Regions from separate parts of the Homo sapiens genome. Here region 2 is linked to region 1. The links come from fine-mapping of genetic effects on gene expression. A gene starts in region 1. The other region holds a variant in brackets. All regions are shown on one strand. Distances are from middle to middle.

The links.
Region 2: its variant is fine-mapped to the expression of CTNNA1 in whole blood (INTERVAL, PIP 0.97).

Annotation. Positions count from the first base shown.
Region 1 is chr5:138,750,434-138,755,809 of GRCh38, forward strand. CTNNA1 (catenin alpha 1) reads left to right here and starts at 2,992. Exons shown (of 18, transcript NM_001903.5): 1 at 2,992-3,077. CTNNA1-AS1 (CTNNA1 antisense RNA 1) reads right to left here and starts at 3,491. Exons shown (of 2, transcript NR_134244.1): 1 at 3,090-3,491. RefSeq lists a silencer at 2,882-3,321 and enhancers at 3,025-3,592, 3,593-4,159.
Region 2 is chr5:138,289,055-138,294,430 of GRCh38, forward strand. It overlaps CDC25C (cell division cycle 25C), which reads right to left. Exons shown (of 14, transcript NM_001790.5): 8 at 2,916-3,062; 9 at 1,585-1,686; 10 at 447-509. Among named protein-coding and RNA genes, the nearest start is that of GFRA3, 17 kb to the left of the region's middle. The variant C/T (reference allele first, on the strand shown) is at 2,521.

The DNA of each region.
Region 1 (5,376 bases):
TGTATAAGCAAGGCCTGGGCATCTGCTCTACTTTCTGGAGAGGCCTCAGGGAACTTTTACTCATGGTGGAAGGTGAAGCTGGAGCAGGCACATTACATGCTGAAAGCAGGAGCAGGAGGGGGCTGAGGTGCCACATCTTTTTGTTTTTGAGACAGGGTCTCACTCCGTTGCCCAGGCTGGAGTGTAGTGGCACAATCATGGCTCACTGCAGCCTCAATCTCCCCAGGCTCAGGTGATCTTCCCACCTGAGCCCCCCAGGTAGCTGGGACTACAGGCACACACCACCATGCCTGGCTTTTTTTTTTTTTTTGAGACAGACTTTTGCTTTTGTTGCCAAGGTTGGAGTGTAATGGCGTGATCTCGGCTCCACCTCTGCCTCCCAGGTTCAAATGATTCTCCTGCCTCAGCGTCCCGAGTAGCTGGGATTACAGGCACATGCCACCATGCCCTGCTAATTTTGTACTTTTAGTAGAGATGGGGTTTCACCATGTTGCCCCAGGCTGGTCTTGAACTCCTGACCTCAGATGATCTGCCCGCTTTGGCCTCCTGAAGTGCTGGGACTATAGGCGTGAGCCACGGTGCCCAGCCTGCTTGGCTAATTTTTTTGTATTTTTTTGTAGAGATGGGTTTTTACCATGTTGCCCAGGCTGGTCTCGAACTCCTGGGCTCAAGCTATCCGCCCACCTTGGCTTCTCAAAAGTGTTGGGATTACAGGTGTGAGCCACTGTGCCTGGCCGGTGCTACACTTTAAAACGACTACATTTCATGAGAATTCCCTTAGTACCTGGAGGACAGCACCAAGCCATGAGGGATCCTCCTCTATTACCCAAATGCCTCCCACCAGCCCCACCTCCAACACTGGGGATTACATTTCAATGTGAGATTTGGGCAGGGACAAATATCCAAAATATATGAATTATGTTCTGAGTTAGCCAGGTGAAGTAGAGGGACGCCAAAGCCACTCTAGGCAGAGGAGACTACAGGAGCAAAGACCCTGCAGCCAGAAACAGGACAGGGGTAGTTGGACAAGAATGACCTTGTCAGGGTTTGCCTTTTTCTTTTTCTTTTTGAGACAGAGTCTCACTGTGTTGCCCAGGCTGGAGTGCAGTGGTGCAGTCATGGTTCACTGCAGCCTTGAACTCCCAGGCTCAAGCGATCCTCCCACCTCAGCCTCCCAAGTAGCTGGGACTACAGGTAGGTGCCACTACACCCAGCTATGTTTTTGTATTTTTTTGTAGACAAGGGTTCTATCATTTTGCCCAGGCTGGTCTCCTGAGCTCATGTGATCCACCCATCTTGGCCTCCCAAAGTGCTGGGATTACTTGTGTGAGCCACTGTGCCCATCCTCTTTTTCTTAAAGGTTGTTCTCTCCCCACTTCATGGTCCTATTGCCCTTTGTCAGCATCTGTTAACTAGCACAGGCCCACAGTACTTTGAATTACAGTGGGCACATTCACCCACAGATGTTCACTAGGCACTCCCTAGGGGATGGGCAATGTGCTGGGTGCTGCAGGAGATACAGCTCCTGCTTTCCAGAAGTTTATATTCCCTTGGGGGAGAGGGAGATGTGAGGAGTAGAGGGTAAACACGGTAAGGGCAGGTCTCCCTAGCACCCTGCTCTCTATTCAGCACAAGGCCAGCAGTGGACATCGTCGTCTTGCATTATTCAGGTTTATAGGCCAATACTGAAATCTATCTTATTCATCATCCCGTGAGCAGGGGAAACATCATTAGGGTTTTCTATACCAGGATGATAGTGAGCATGTAGTAGTTTTTGTTTTTTTGTGTTGTTTGTTTGCTTTGTAATTTTGTTTTCTTTTGTTTTTGGAGTATTCACTATGAAGATAAGAAAGGGTAAGAATAAAATGCCCCAAATGACCAGAGGAATAGAGATAGAAGTCAGGTCCCTCAAATTTGTTGGAGGAGGGGGACAAGCTGGGAGGGGGGACGTGCTGGGGGCGGGGCGGGAACAAGCCCAAAAAGGGACAGCTGCTGCGGTGCCTCTTTTGTGTTTGTAAATGTCCTCCCCGCAAGGTGGCTCTAGCCTGTAATCCCAGCACTTTGGGAGGCTGAGGAGGATTTCTTGAGCCCATGAGTTTGAGACCAGCCTGGCAACATAGTGAGACTCTGTGTCTGTAGTTCCAGCTACTCCGGAGGCTGAGGTGGGAGGGTCGGTTGTCCAGGGATTTGAGGCTGCAGTGGGCCGTGATCGCGACACTCCACCCCAGCCTGGGCGACAGAGGGAGACCCCGTCTTAAAAAAAAAAAAAAGTCCTTGATCAAGAGGGCTTCGGGTGTTTCCATCTGTGGAGTGAGGGGACGGGTTAGGTGAATTCTAGGGGCGCTTCCACCTCACATTATGAAAGGTCCTGAGAGTCAGATTCTAGTTCCACTGTGTCCCGAAGCTGTGGGGCCTTTCCTTAGCCTCCGCTTCTCCTTCTGTAAAGCCAGGTAGTTGGCCTAGATCACTTTTCCAGAAGACTGTGACTCCGGGACACCTGTGACACTCTTGAGGGGAGCGTGCCCAGTACCCCTGGTCGCGTCTCTGGGATTCCGCCGGGGTGGGGGCCCGCGCGAGGCCGCCCCTGAGCCTCACCTGTGCGCGGAGCGGTGACTCACCTGCCCTCGCGCAGCCCTCTCCGCCCGCGGGCTGTTCCAGGAGTCACCGCTCCTCCTCCCTCTCAGGGGTCACTCCCGGCCTAAGCTCCCACTAGGGGCCGGGGAGGAAGGAATTCTGAGGTGGGCGGCGGGGAGGAAGAGGTCCCTCGGGGGTCCCGGTCCGGCGTTGCCAGACTCTCTTCGCGGTGGGGGCCTTCCCTTTCCCCAAAAGCGGAGGCCGGAACGGCCGGGAGGAGCGGGCGGGGCGGCGGCGGGAGGCGCCGGGAAGAGCGAGTCGGAGGGAGGTGCCAGGAAGGGCGGGCGGGGCCGGGACAGGGGCGGGGGCCGCGGGCGGGGGGCGGGCCGGGGGCGGGGGCGTGGGGCGGCCCATTTCCTCCTCCTAGCCGGACTGGAGGGAGACAAAGCAGCGCCCGTCTGCTTCGGGCCTCTGGAATTTAGCGCTCGCCCAGCTAGCCGCAGGTAACTTCGTACCTCCCTCCTCGCGGGCGCGGTCTCTCGGGCCAGGCCGAGAGGGTCCTTGGGCCGGGCCGTCCCAAGCTGGGCCCCGCGAGCCGCGGGCGGGCGAGCGGGCGGGGCGCGGTTTCTTTGGCGACGTCGCCGGGAATTGGGCCCCGGGCGGGCGTGGGACCCGCGTCGGGCCGGCGGTCCCTTCCCCCGCAGGGCCCGAGTATGGGGCCCGGGCGGGCACGGCCGGCGCTTCCCAGCGCTCGGGAAGTCGGGGGGCCGCCTGGGCTGGGGAGGAGAAACTATAGGCCCAGCGCCGCCGCCGCGTTTCCTCTTGGAAAAGTTTTCTCGCGGTTTCCAAACTTTGTTACCGCGGCCTCGGCGCGCGCGGCAGCCCCGCGCCGGGCCCCTCGGCCGCCTTCCTTCCCTGGGGCGGCTTGTCTGGGAGCCGCTTTCCCGGGAAGTGATTGTCGTCCGGCTCCGAGGCGTTCCTGCCCCCTCCCCCTTCCCGGCCGCTGAGACTTCCCGATGGGGCGGCGGGGACGCGGGCTCGGCGAACCGGGAGGCTGGAGCCCGGGCTTCTCCCATACAGCTTCGCCGTAGGTGGGCCACACCCGTGTGGACTTTTGGCGTGACCGTCCACTTGGACTCGGGGATTACTCAGCTTTCCTGGGTTTCTTGTCGGTTGGACGCACTTAGCTTTCAGCCCTAGTTTTCAGGAGTGGCATTAGAGAGGTTTTTTTTTTTTTTTAATTGTTGTTGACTTTTAAAGGAGCGTGTGTGTGCGTGCGAGTGTGAAGCACTTGTTGGAAAAAATGTTGCCTGAATGAATGCCTGACCTTTGCTTGGCAGCAGTGGCTTCCCAGTAATGCAGGCGGCGGTTGGCCCAGTTCCAAGGTTGACTCCCTCTTACGTCCTCTTGCATCTTGGTGACATTTTTTTGGTGCGTGTGTTTTGTACAGAATTTACAATTATTTGGAAAAGAGCGAGATATGTCAAGTCTACGACTAAATTCGGGGCATTTTATATTTATGATGAAGGAAATGCTTACATCATTGTTGGGACAGGATAGGCATTTTGTGGAGCGAATATTTGTGTTTAGTCAGCAGTGATTTTTAAATACTGGACAGGTGGGTGTTACTTTAAGGAACGGAATTTATAAATCGAATTAATTAGGATGTGTTATTTTGTTTTACAGGAAGAATGAAGAATGAGTGTAGGAGTTACCTATAGTTTCTGCCTAATTATTTACCAATCTGGACTTTTGAACAAACATTTTTTTTAAAGACGGGGTCTCCGTCGCCCGGGCTGGAGCGCAGTGACACGATCATGACTCACTGCGGCTTCTGTCTCCTGGGCTCAAGTGATCCCCCCACCTCGGCTTCCGAAGTAGTTGGGACTACAGGCACGCGCCACCACATCCGTCTAATTTTTGTATTTTTGGTAGAGATGGTGTCTCGCTGTCTTGCCCAAGCTGGTCTCGAACTCCTGGGCTCAAGTGGTCCTCCTGCCTCAGCCTCCCAAAGTGTTGTGATTACAGGCCTGAGCCAGGGTGCCTGACCCCATCTGGATATTTATTCAGCGAAAGAATAATTTTTTAATCCACCTAAGAGCTCACAGTGTAATAGGGGAGACACACACCCCAGGTGTAGTACAGAGCGGACTGCAGTAAGTGCCTTAACAGTACTAATGAAACTATTGTCTGAGTCAAATCTTACCTAATAGTAACAACAAAAGAAACTTGTAGAGGCACGGAGAGGGGGCTAATAAGTTTTACTTGGGTAAGTCCAGAAAGGCTTTCAGGAGGTGGTGGCATTTGATCTGGATGAAACATGAGTCGAGTTTTTTTTAAGTGAAGGGAGAAAGTCATGAGAAGCATAAAAGGGCATAGGAGTTTGGGGAATTGTGATATCACTCTCCTGGTTTTCTTTTCCTTTTGACTCATCTCAGTTTCTTTCTTTTCCTCGCCCTCACTCTTTCCTCTCGTACCCAGGGTTCTTTCCAAAGTATCTTTGTCCTCCACACCACTGATGTGGCATCACCTTCACTCCCATCAGTGATATCTCATTTCATATAGTGACTTAGAGATGAGAGGTACCCTCCTCCAAGATGAGAATCACTGCTCTGTGCAGTCTCTTCTGTCATCAGCCTTATGTGCTAAAAGTCCAAGCCTTTGAGTGCAGGTGTGTCTCCTGACCCACATGGTCACCTGTGCATTGGGAAGCTTTTTGGGTGTCCCAGGCTTCTCAAACTCAAGGTGTCCAAAGTGGGACTCCTGTCTCTTCTGGAGACATGAACCAGATGTGGAGATCCA
Region 2 (5,376 bases), 460 kb before region 1:
CTGGGGTTCAAGCAATTCTTGTGCTTCAGCCTCCCAAGTAGCTGGGATTATAGGCACACATTACCACGCCTGGTTAATTTTTTTGTATTTTTATTAGAGATGGGGTTTCGCCATGTTGGCCAGGGTGGTCTCGAATTCCCTGCCTCAAGTGCCTGAGATCTGCCTGCCTCAGCCTCCCAAAATGCTAGGATTTCAGGCGTGAGCCACCATGCCTGACCCCTCCCTTTTTCCCTTTTACAAAAACTATGTATCATTTGTTTAACTAAAAACGAAGGAGAGAGAAGAATGGGGAAAAAAATGAGTCCTTCAATATAACTTCAGTTGAATAAGGAGCCTGTGTGAGTGAACACAGTGAAAGAAATACAAATGGAAATGGGCATTTTAGGGACAGAAGAGACCAGATGGTAGCTTATGTAACCAGTTACCATCTCCAGAAATCTGCTTACTGTTTCTGGGTTGACATACTTCAGATCTTGGTGTTTCCCTGACACGGTTGGCAGCGCACATACCTAGAAATACACAAGAGCTGAAATAACAGCAAGTATTCCACACCCAAGTTTGAGATCAAAGACCCTTATTTTGTCCTTCTTTCCAAGTGACCCTTAAAACCCCAGAGGCCTTCAAAAAAATCAGTGTCTCTATAAAGTGCATATACATCAAGTCCATTTCTAAGAACTGATCCTAAAGAACAAATCAAGGATGTGTACGAAGTTTTAGATTTCTCTACAAATATATTCATCTTGGTATCATTCATAAGAAAAAATTGTAAAACCAAATATCTTACAAGAAGGGATTTATGAAGAAATTATGAGCAGCCAAAAAAAAAAAAAAAAGAAATAATATGGAGCTATTAAAATGAAATGGGCTGGGCATGGTGGCTCATGCCTGTAACCTCAGTGCTTTGGGAAGCCAAGGAGAGAGAGGATTTCTTGAGGCCAGGAGCTCGAGGCTGAAGTGAGCTATGATCATGCCAATGTACTCCAGCCTGGGCAACAGATCAAGACCTTGAATCTTAAAAAAAGAAAGAATGAAGCATAACTGCTTATTAATATGAAAAAAGATGCCCCTGATATAATTATTAAATGAGAGGAAAAACAACAGATAACAAAACAATATAAACTGTTTTTGTAGAAAAGCAAAAACTGTATTTGTATATGTGTTTGTGAAAACACAGAAAAAAATCTGTAAGAATATGTACCTTCTGCAATTACACAGACAGTAGGGGGGAAAAAAAGAGTATATACTAAGCAATATTACCCTGGTTAATAAAGTTTGGGATAAATTTCTTCATTTTCTACTTTTTCTGTAACAACCAAGTATTATTTACATAATTTTAAAATATGTTTTTAAACAGAAAAAAGGTAAAAAGTCTCATACTTTCCCCTGTTCTGGATCTTCCCAGAAGAATAAGAAATACTTTCTCTCTGGAAAGGCTTAGGGCCTGGATCTACCACTAGAGCACTGTCAGGTTACCAAAGAGTACTTGGTGAGGATGCATATTTACACCAGGCATTCTCGGCAAACAGAGAAGATTCAGATCCAAAATGACTCACTGAAATACAGGATGGGTGTAGCCAAACTCACCTTGGAAAAATCACCAATCAGGTGCCCCTGGTTAGAATCTTCCTCCAGCATCTGAGTGATAGTAATGTCACACAGAGAGACTGTCTTCTTTAAACATAAGCCCTGAAGATGACAAGATTCCCACCCCACACCCAATCCTCATGTTAAAGGTTTAAAAACCAGTGGATGGAGTGGGCCATGGTGGCGCACATCTGTAATCCTAGCTACATGGGAGGCTGAGGTAGGGAGATCACTTGAGCCCAGGAGGCCAAGGCTATAGTGAGCTACGATTGCACCACTGCACTCCAGTCTGGGAGACAGAGTGAGACTCCATTTGTTTATTTATTATTTTTAATAATAAATAAATATTGAGGCTGCAGTGAGTCAAGACCATGCCACTGCAATCCAGCCTGGGTGACAGAGTGAGACCCCATCTCAGGGGAAAATAAATAAATAAATAAATAAGTTGATTTTATAAAATATCCAAAGATTTTAGAATTTTAATTTTTTATTTTATTTTTTTTTATTAGAGATGGGGTCATGCTATATTGACCAGGCTGGTCTTGAACTTCTGACCTTAAGTGATCCTCCCATCTATTTAATTTTTTTAAAGTTGGGGAGGGTAAAGGACAAAGGCTAAGTTTTTCAGAAGTTGCTTTCCACAAAACCAACCTGCTATATGATGTTGTTTCTGTCAGACTGCATGTAAAACAGCAGTAAAATATCCATACCAAAGTTCCCTTGTATTCTTTCAGATCTTAAGAAAAAGGGTTGGGAAGACGGTATGATGACAACATTTCTCTTTTTTTTTTTTTTTTTGAGACGGAGTCTTGCTCTGTTGCCCAGGCTGGAGTGCAGTGGCACAATCTTGGCTCACTGCAACCTCCACCTCCCGGGTTCAAGCGATTCTCCTGCCTCAGCCTCCTGAGTAGCCGGGACTACAGGCACATGCTGCCA[C/T]GCCCAGCTGATTTCTTGTATTTTAGTAGAGACGGGGTTTCACCGTGTTGCCCAGTCTGGTCTTGAACTCCTGAGCTCAGGCAATCCGCCCGCCTCGGCCTCCCAAAGTGCTAGGATTATAGGCGTGAGCCACTGCACCCGGCCTATGACAACATTTCTAAAAGTACAATATAGATATACTTTATGTATCTATGTTATATAAATATTTTATATATATATATATATTTCACGTGGATACAGATGTAGAAAAGACAGAAAGATGGAAAGAACAAAGAGGAAAAAGTAAAAGTAAAGAGGAAGAAGACAAAAAAGGCATAATAAAACAATCCTCATACCAGAAAAGCAAAGACATGAGATAGAAGATGAACAAGATTTTCATCTTAAAAAGTTCTTACCTTCCTGAGCTTTCCTTGGCCAGAAAAATACTTTTTTTTAACTTTATCTGGTATTGTGTTGTCCTTGAATTTTTCCACCTGCTTCAGTCTTGGCCTGTTCAAGTTCTCTGGCATCGACGGGGAGCGATATAGGCCACTTCTGCTCACCTGTTTGGGAATATTAAACCCCCTAGTTCTTACTCCTCCAAGTGTGTCTGCAGACCTGCAGCAACAACATCTCCTGGGAGCTTCTTTGAAATGCAGGTTTCCAGATGTTAGGCCACACCCCAAACCTACTGAATTAAAATCTGCATTTTAACAAGATGCCCAGGTGATTTCTCAAGTTTGAGAAGCCTTGGGTAGGCAACCTGTCTTCATAGGCCCGTTAATATCTTTCTACCTGGACTGCATGATATTCCATCTCCATGGACGTCTTAACTAGCCAAACCAAATTCTGCAGCTGACTGTCTTAGATGCACCAGTTCTTCTAACAGAAAGCAAACACAAGCTCAGTCCCTCCAGTTATGTGACCAAAAAAAAAAAAAAAAAAAAAAACATAAGTCCATTTTGTCTCTGGGATCCTAGGACATTGACAATCAGGATTTAAGGACCTCAACAAACCTAAAGATGAAAAGCCAAGAAGAAAAATAGCAAAAGAAGCATCATGCAAGAAAAAAGGACACACTAAAATCAAATAGCATGCTGACCATTATAGGATGGATACTATGAAACCCATCAGGGAAAAAAAAGTGGCTCAAACGTCATGAAGAACTAGCCTTGAGAATTGCTTACACAGGAACAGATTAAAGTATAAGAGGATAGACTGTTGTTTATTTGAAAGGCATGGTTTGGGTGCTATATTCAGAGTTGAGGGTCTATCAAATGACCTCTGATAACACCTTCCAACTAATCCACAATTCTATCCTCTGTTGCCACATACTTTGAGATCTCTACCTCTCACCTAGAGAACAGGCAAAAGCTCCTTCTCTAAACACTTATCGCACTACCTGTTATGGACTGATTTAGGAGGGGGGCTATACAATAAGAGAGCCATAACTGGAAGGCAGCTTGATGATCAATGGTTTCTGGAAGAACGAAATAAGAATAACAACATTTTGCTTTATGACAGCTATGGATATTATGTTGTTTATCACACACATGGTCCTACCTCTTGTTCGTGATACCAGCTGATGGTACCGTCCACATTATACGTACCCTTAGACTCCTTCCAAACATCGCCCTATGTCCCCATCCACCCTACCCCCCAGACACTGATGACTGGACCATATTGCTGGTTGAACACATCTATTTAGTGGTCTAGAATAAGCAAAAATAATCTAGGCCAATCAGGTTCCCTCTCTTGGTTGCCTAACTTGGAAGATGGAGAAATAATTAGGCAGTAGCAGAAGCCAAAGCCCAAAAGGAAGAAGCCAAGAGATACAGTCAAGGCCACGAAGCCAGTGATGCATGAATGGATCAACCAAAGGTAGGGTAGGAAAGGAGATATGGTGAGGCACTGAGGAGTAGGGTGCCTGGTCTCCATGACAGACAGGACTTCATATAACTTCAATTTTCCCCTGAGAAGGCAGGGGAAAGCTAGATGAGGATTTCAAAAGGGGCTTCTCTAGAACACACCATAATAATTATGCTAAGAGCCATATTACTAAGAGTTTGGAATTAATTAGCTAATTGAAACTTATCTTTTTTTTTTTTTTTTTGAGATAGGGTCTCGCTGTCACTCTGGTTGGAGTGCAGTGGCACAATCTTAGCTCACTGCAACCTCTGCCTCTCAGGCTCAAGCGATCCTCCCAACTCAGCCTCCTGAGTAACTGGGACTACAGATGCGCATCACCATGCCCAGCCAATTTCTGTATTTTTTATAGAGAGAGGGTTTTACCATGTTGTCCAGGCTGGTCTCGAACTCCCGGGCTTAAGTGATCCATCCGCCTTGGCCTACCAAAGTGCTGGGTTTACAGGCATGAGCCACCACGCCCAGTCTGTATCCATTTTTAAGCATTGTATCTAATAAATTTTTGCCAACTCAAGGTCACAAAAATTGTCTCCGTTTTCTTTGGATTTTTTTTTTTTTTTTTTTGAGACAGAGTCTCACTCTGTCGCCCAGGCTGGGGTGCAATGGCATGATCTCGGCTCATTGCAACCTCCGCCTCCCAGGTTCAAGTGATTCTCCTTGCCTCAGCCTCTGGAGTAGCTGGCATTACAGGTGCTGACTACCATGCTTGGCTAATTTTTTTTTTTTTTTTGAGATGGAGTCTAGCTCTGTCACCCAGGCTAGAGTGCAGTGGCACGATCTCGGCTCATTGCAACCTCTACCTCCCAGGTTTCAGCAATTCTCCTGCCTCGGCCTCCCGAGTAGCTGGGATTACAGGTGCCTGCCACCATGCCCAGCTAACTTTTGTATTTTTAGTAGAGACGGGGTTTCACCGTGTTGGTCAGGCTGGTGTCGAACTCCTGACCTCGTGAT